Homo sapiens: one gene and its partner. The gene in region 1 interacts genetically with each later gene. Each region holds a gene or a part of one and is shown on either strand. Other genes may lie near its edges. The genes, in order: RNF40 and KRAS.

Evidence for each region.
Region 2: changes in RNF40 (region 1) and KRAS are lethal when combined (synthetic lethality), as found in Homo sapiens cells (3 studies listed by BioGRID, with this or other methods).

The regions. Positions count from the first base shown.
Region 1 is NC_000016.10:30,760,530-30,764,447, forward strand, and holds the start of RNF40 (E3 ubiquitin-protein ligase BRE1B), read left to right. Parts: upstream 1-1,792; 5' UTR 1,793-1,831; exon of another isoform or gene 1,832-1,869; intron 1,870-1,945; 5' UTR 1,946-2,016; coding exon 2,017-2,148; intron 2,149-2,588; coding exon 2,589-2,756; intron 2,757-2,888; coding exon 2,889-3,030; intron 3,031-3,649; coding exon 3,650-3,856; intron 3,857-3,918. Other genes in the region: CFAP119 (cilia- and flagella-associated protein 119), read right to left, coding at 77-139, 669-700, 1,016-1,219.
Region 2 is NC_000012.12:25,209,126-25,213,043, reverse strand, and holds part of KRAS (GTPase KRas), read left to right. Parts: intron 1-865; coding exon of another isoform or gene 866-866; intron 867-3,132; coding exon 3,133-3,249; 3' UTR 3,250-3,918. UniProt on the Homo sapiens protein: Ras proteins bind GDP/GTP and possess intrinsic GTPase activity. Plays an important role in the regulation of cell proliferation.

The DNA of each region.
Region 1 (3,918 bases):
GCCATTCCTCATGTTTTCCCAACCTGACCCCTCAGCCTTTGCCAAGAGCTCTTCCCACGCCCCCCTCAGTCCCTACTCCCTCATCTCAGCATTGGTGGTCTTCTCCAGCTGGTGCATGGAATGGACGTCCAGGTACTTCCTGTTATAGTAAAAGAAAAAGAGTATTGGTGGCCGTTACCTATCATGACAAGGCTGTGACAGCTAGTGCGTGAGACTGGGAGTTGGCCACCGGCGTGAAGCTGGGCTCTTTTGCCAGCTTGCTGTGTGACTATGCAAATCGTTAACTCTCTGGGCCTAAATGAACTCTTATGAGCCTCTCCATTTCTAAAGCCTAGGGTTAGGAATCTTGAATTCTTTTTTCTGCTCTGCCACTACCTTGTATGACCTTGGTCAAGTACTCCCTGTGGCCCTCAGTGTCCCCCTCTGTACAATACTCCTTAGCGGCCATGAGACTCCATTTACATTCTGTCTTTGGCTCTTTTTTTCTCACACTGCCTCCTCTTTGGACTGGAGAGGCTGGAAAGCCAACTTCCAGTCACCTGGAGTAATTGCATCTCCAGGCCTCAGTCTCATCTGTAAAATGGGGATGCCCTGGCCACAGACAGGACTGTTGGGGAGACAATAAAGAACGCAAATATTCAGTGTAATTTTTGTCTCTTCACACTCACCACATGCAGATCCGGGGTCGGGGCAGCGGCGGCTGCGGAAAGAAAGCGAATTGGGGAAGGCAGCTGCGGTGTCCTGGCCCGTAGCGAATCTCCAGCAGGCCGGAGAAGCCGCTGTAACTTGCCATCTCATCTCAAGGACTAAGGAGAGGCGCGGGCGAGGGAGGGCTTCAGCAGGCCCTAGGTGCTCTACGCGAGCACAGTAACCACCGGGGTCACACACCCCTGCCTCTCCTCGCCCAAGCAGCCCGGGAGACGTCCCGAACGTTAGTAAGCATAATGACAGGTGGCGCCTGCGGGGGAGCCGGTTTATAAATATTCACGAGCAGACCAGACTGTCCCGCCCTCACCGGAAACAAGTTGGCTCCGGGGTCTTCATCCGCTTTCGCCGCCGCCGCCGTCGTCCACTGAGTCCGCACACTCGCACGCGTCCGCGCGGCCGACCCATGCACTGAGCTGCGATCCTTCCCCGCTTCCCGCCGCAGCTCGGAGAGATGTTCAAGCTCCGACTGCACCCTCATTCCCAAAAAGTGGCTGGTCTTGCGGTTGAGCATCTCGCCGCTCTTCCGTGCCGCGAGGCGCCCCGGGCTCCCGCCGCCTAGGTTCCAGGACAGCCAGCGCTCGGTCGGCGGCTACCAAGGCCGGGCCCGTTCGCCTCGCTCCGGCCAATCTACGCGCGGAGAGGCGCGGCGGGGCGAATCCGTGGGGGCGTCTCCCTCCGTCTCAACGGCGACGGTTGCCAAGGGGGCTTGTGAGGGAAGGAAGGCGGAAAGCGCAGGCTCACGCCAGTGGGAGCGAAGAGAACGCGCAGATACGTGAGAAGTTGCGAGTGCCCACCTGGGCGCCCTCTCTTCCAGGTTGCTAATACGAGGGCCGGTGCTGTCCTCCAGGCTGGGAAGTGGGAGCGCGGTGTCAGTTACTATGGGAACTGCCTCTTGGCCAATCACCGAGAGAAAGAGGAGGTGTTTGGGAAGAAGCCAGAGGACCCGAGTGGCGGGACCAAGCGTAACCAATAGAAGCAGAAGATAAAGAAGTTTCCTCACATCCGGGGCTGCCTTTGGCGCCTGCGCCCTGCGCACCGTTGGGGGGGGGGCAGTGGCGTCCAGTGACGCCCAGTGACGTCCGGTGAAATCCAAGATGGCGGCGCTAGGCTGACCCTCCTGCTGGTGAGGGCTCTGGCGCCGGGGGGGACGGGATCCAGCAGGTGTGTGCAGGGTGGAGGGTGTTTGGGGCTGTGGAACACCAGCCGTTCCCACATCTCTGCTCTGTGTCTTCTGCAGGTGACGGAAGTACCGCCTCCTCCCGTTTGACGCCCCTCAGGGGACCCTGCATCGCTCCAGCCGCCGCGGCCATGTCTGGGCCAGGCAACAAACGCGCCGCCGGCGACGGGGGCTCAGGGCCCCCGGAAAAGAAGCTGAGTCGTGAGGAGAAGACCACCACGACTCTTATCGAGCCCATTCGTCTTGGAGGCATCTCTTCCACGGTTCGTGGGCTCTTGCCTTAACCCTCAGAACTTCCCAGAGCCCTCCCTCTGTTCTCTGGCCAAACTGTGCGGAATCTTACACCCACTTCCCCAAGTTTAGCAAGGTCCGCGTTACAGGACCTTGAAAGAAAGGTTAGAAAGAAGCTCAGAACACGACGCCTGTCTTCCCTTTACAGATAGGAAAACAGGTTTCCAGGGGGCGTGTGACTTGTCAAAGACTAAGGATTTACAAGGGGACAGGCAGAAACAACGTGAGCCTCCTCACAACAAAGACACTTTCGCTGTGTGTTGTCTGAGCCTCCTTAGATTCTGTTAGCGGTTAGTGTGGGAATACCTCCATCTCCCATGCATTGCAGATGCTCTGCTCCTCTTTCTCTCTCTGTGATTGGTTTGTGGGCCCTGCTTGACGCTCTCGTCGGCCCCTTTGTTTCCTTTGGTAGGAGGAGATGGACCTGAAGGTACTACAGTTCAAGAACAAGAAACTGGCAGAGCGGCTGGAACAACGGCAGGCTTGTGAAGATGAACTCCGAGAACGAATTGAGAAGTTGGAGAAGCGGCAGGCCACAGATGATGCCACACTCCTCATCGTCAATCGCTACTGGGCCCAGGTGGATACCTTCTGCTTTCAAAGACCAGGCCTTGATTCAGCTGCCAATCCCCAGATTCCCCTGCTAGGAAAGGAGTATCATGTTGGAAAGCACTAAGGGATTCATAACATTTTTGATGTTTTCTCCTTCCAGCTGGATGAAACTGTGGAAGCCCTTCTCCGATGCCATGAGAGCCAGGGGGAGCTGTCTTCAGCGCCTGAGGCACCTGGGACCCAGGAGGGGCCAACATGTGATGGGACTCCTCTCCCAGAGCCGGGGACATCAGAGCTGAGAGGTAGGACCAGAGTGCTGGGATCTGGGGAGCTTAAGTTCTGGGAGAAGTCCTGGGGAGGAGGGGACTTTGGTGTTGGGCCCCTGAATTGCCTATCTTACTACTTCTCACGAAATGGATTTCATGTTTGGGCAGTAAAGTGCAGTGCACAAAAACACAGGCTTTAGACTCTGACTAACTTGGTTTATAGAGCAATTCATGTTTTGACACCCATTTGTTTCAAAACAGTATTATGGTTGAGTATTAAATATGTATTTGACGCTTCCTAGAAATGAGTGTTGCACTTGCTATAAGGGAGGAAATTATAAACATAGTAAGCAGAAAGTACTGGGGCTCCTGAAACGGAATGATTGTGTGTGCATGCATGTGCGTGTGATTCTAATTATATTGGTAAAGTACAGGAAGCTTCCCTGAGGATGTGATACGCAACTCTGTAGCTTTGAGGAAATTACTTTACCTCCCTGAATTTCATTTGTCTCACTTTCAGGATGGAGATAATAGTGCACTATAGGTTGTGTTGATTAAGTGAACCATGAGTATTGAAGGGCTCAGTCTGGAACTTGGTACAGAGTGGTAGTAACTGCTGCTCTTATCCTCATGAGGGTCTGTCCATTCCTTCCAGACCCCTTGCTGATGCAGCTGCGGCCCCCTCTCAGTGAGCCGGCCTTGGCTTTTGTGGTGGCACTGGGTGCCAGCAGCAGTGAGGAGGTGGAGCTGGAGCTGCAAGGCCGAATGGAGTTCTCCAAGGCAGCTGTGTCTCGTGTGGTAGAGGCCTCAGACCGCCTACAGCGCCGGGTGGAGGAACTCTGTCAGCGAGTGTACAGCCGAGGTGGGTTCTTTGTGCCCATACTGAAGGGGTGTCCATCCCCACCTGCATCTTGATGGCACCCC
Region 2 (3,918 bases), on another chromosome or scaffold:
GCCTGTAGTATCAGCTGCTTGGGAGCCTGAGGCAGGAGGATTGCCTGACCCCAGGAGTTTGAGGTTGAAGGGAGCTATGATGGTGCCATGGCACTGTAGCCTAGGCAACAGAAAGAGACTCCATCTCTTAAAAAAAGTAAAAATAAAAAAATTTTGGCACAGGGACAGTGGCTCACACTTATAATGCCAGAACTTTAGGAGTCCACAGCGCGAGGACTGCTTGAGGCCAGGAGTTTAAGACCAGACTGGGCAACGTAATGAGACCCCACCTTTAGGAAATAAATACATAAATAAAAATTTGACAATGATAAACATATATAAATTAGCTTTTCTTAGTCCTGAAAAAGATAATGTTATGTGTATGTGTGAGAATGATTAGTTCTCATATGAGAAAAAAAGAATTCATTGCTCTGTGTAGGTTGTGACATTTCCTTCACGATTGAAATTAATTAATTTTTTTTTATTACTTATTTATTTTTAAAATAGAGACAGGTTCTTGCTGTGTTGCCCAGGCTGGTCTCAAACTCCTGGCCTCAAGCAGTTCTCCTGCCTCAGCCTCCCAAATTGCTGTGACTGTAGGTGTGAGCCACTGCACTGGGCCAAAATTACTTAATTTTAACAAGATGATGTAGAGAGGAGAGTTCATTGCAACATAAGCCTAGAATCTTTGTCAGAATCTTAGGAAGTAATGTTTTCAAATTCTGTGTTTTCACCATAAAATGTGTCTTCTCTGTGTCCATCACATGGTTTTTCATTGTTTTCTGCTTTACCATTTTAGTACCATTGGCATTTTTCTTCATTGTAAAAGTAGTAGAAATGGAGTAGATTACATAAGGATGTGATCAGAGGGAATTTATTCATTCAGGGTAAGGGAGTTAGATCCTCTTTTAAGATTCTATCACATTCTAAGGGTTTATGATTCTAAACTGTCAAGTAAATTGTCAAGTGCTGGCAAGCTACAGAATAATTTTTATTGTATCATTGGAAATTTTCCCCTCTATATGTGTTAAAGAGTTTAGCCTGAAGGGATACATACACATACATATATGTAATCAAACCTTGATGGTATTGTATTGCTGATAAATTATTTCTTACCACTTTTCCTTTCTCCTGTGGGAGAAACAAAAGCATATGTTTGTGTAGTATCAGTAATGATATTAGAGAGTGGGAAACATCAGTGAGTGCAGTTTGGGGACTTTATTGGAGACTTTCACTAGTGCTCAAATAAATAATGCTGGTTTTTATCCTACTGTTTGCTTAATGTGGACTAGCCTCTTATTCCCATTCTATGTTTACCTCTCTTAAAATATTGGTCACGCTTTCTTGAATTATAGATCTATTAGGAAAATTCATGAACTGTAGCTAATTTTCATTGTTCATGCTCCAGATTTATTTTGAAATATCGTTAATCTTAGTAGTACAGTAAAGGAGAAATACCACTTAACATTTTTTGTTTTTTTTTCTTTGAGACAGAGTCATGCTCTGTCACCCAGTCTGGAGTGCAGTGGTGCTATCTCGGCTCACTGCAATGCACTTCGCCTCTCCGGGTTCAGCAATTCTCCTGCCTCAGCCTCCTGAGTAGCTGGGATTACAGGCACCTGCTACCACACCCAGCTAATTTTTGTATTTTTAGTAGAGACAGGGTTTCACCATGTTGGCCAGGCTGGTCTGAAACTCCTCACCTCAAGTGATCCACCCGTCTTGGCCTCCCAAAGTGCTGGGATTACAGGCTTGAGCCACCGCACCCCGCCCACTTAACATTTTAAATTAATTTCAAGATAATATCACTTGAATATTTTTACACATATAATTTTTTTAATACATTTATTTACACAGTTTATAATATCCTACAAAGTGATTACAATGAGTAAAAACCCAGTTTTCATTGTTCCTAAAGTGGCTTGATTTATACAACTTAATGTGTTGGGTATTTGTTTCTAAGACTCCCTCTGCTGTCTAGGTTTGGAAGTATTGTGAGGTTAACAGATTTTCTTTTTATAGTTACTACTCAGTTGAACAGGCTTTAAAATACAGAGAGAATCATATTTTTTCTTCATTTTTTGCTTTTATTTATATTTTTCTTTTAATTGGAGACATGACAAGAATTGACTTGTGTATGGATCTTGCATAATTTAAGTACTGCAGGTTTAAAATCTACTACCAGTTTGAGAGTGCCATTTTTCACACTGTAGATTATTAGGTTGAAAAGTATTATGGCTTAAAATCGCTTTTAGCCATTAAATTTAAATAACCTTGCTTTAATCATAAATAGATGGTGGTCACAATGACTAACTGTTAAACTCTTTGAAGACAGGATATTTGGCTTTATATGGCAAGCTTTTGAATACAACAGAAATTAAAACTTTATGGGATAGAAAGAATCTCCTCCAAATTGGTAAACTATAAGACCTTTCAAATGATTTAGCTAATTTCTCCACAAATCTGAGGTATTAGTGTTTTTTTTAAAGTGGTATTCTCCTGTGTTGGGGTCACTTTAAACCTTTTTCTTAATGATAAATATATGAATTGAAACTAATCCCTTAATATATATCATTTGAAAACTGAAATAATATGTTTAGATACTGTTTACTTGTTGATAAATTATTGGAATAGGATGTTCGAATACTGTTTACTTCTTGGTAAATTTTTAAATCCAATGGATTTTACGTAAGTATAGAACTGGAGCTCAAATACTGTTACTGTGTGTGAAGATATATGAACATAGTTTACAGTTGCATGGCTTATATCTAAAGTCCAGAAACATAAGGACAATTAAGTGTACACACACACACATGCATTTGGATTTTGATGACTTAGGTTTGCCAATGTGGAAAAAATAGTAGCAAATTAAGTTCTCCTGTGAAAAAGTCGTTACCTTATTTAAAATTCTGTGCCATTGGTTATCCTTGTCTTTTGTGAAAATTAGTGTTCCTGTTTATAATATTGACAAAACACCTATGCGGATGACATTTAAGAATTCTAAAAGTCCTAATATATGTAATATATATTCAGTTGCCTGAAGAGAAACATAAAGAATCCTTTCTTAATATTTTTTCCATTAATGAAATTTGTTACCTGTACACATGAAGCCATCGTATATATTCACATTTTAATACTTTTTATGTATTTCAGGGTGTTGATGATGCCTTCTATACATTAGTTCGAGAAATTCGAAAACATAAAGAAAAGATGAGCAAAGATGGTAAAAAGAAGAAAAAGAAGTCAAAGACAAAGTGTGTAATTATGTAAATACAATTTGTACTTTTTTCTTAAGGCATACTAGTACAAGTGGTAATTTTTGTACATTACACTAAATTATTAGCATTTGTTTTAGCATTACCTAATTTTTTTCCTGCTCCATGCAGACTGTTAGCTTTTACCTTAAATGCTTATTTTAAAATGACAGTGGAAGTTTTTTTTTCCTCTAAGTGCCAGTATTCCCAGAGTTTTGGTTTTTGAACTAGCAATGCCTGTGAAAAAGAAACTGAATACCTAAGATTTCTGTCTTGGGGCTTTTGGTGCATGCAGTTGATTACTTCTTATTTTTCTTACCAATTGTGAATGTTGGTGTGAAACAAATTAATGAAGCTTTTGAATCATCCCTATTCTGTGTTTTATCTAGTCACATAAATGGATTAATTACTAATTTCAGTTGAGACCTTCTAATTGGTTTTTACTGAAACATTGAGGGAACACAAATTTATGGGCTTCCTGATGATGATTCTTCTAGGCATCATGTCCTATAGTTTGTCATCCCTGATGAATGTAAAGTTACACTGTTCACAAAGGTTTTGTCTCCTTTCCACTGCTATTAGTCATGGTCACTCTCCCCAAAATATTATATTTTTTCTATAAAAAGAAAAAAATGGAAAAAAATTACAAGGCAATGGAAACTATTATAAGGCCATTTCCTTTTCA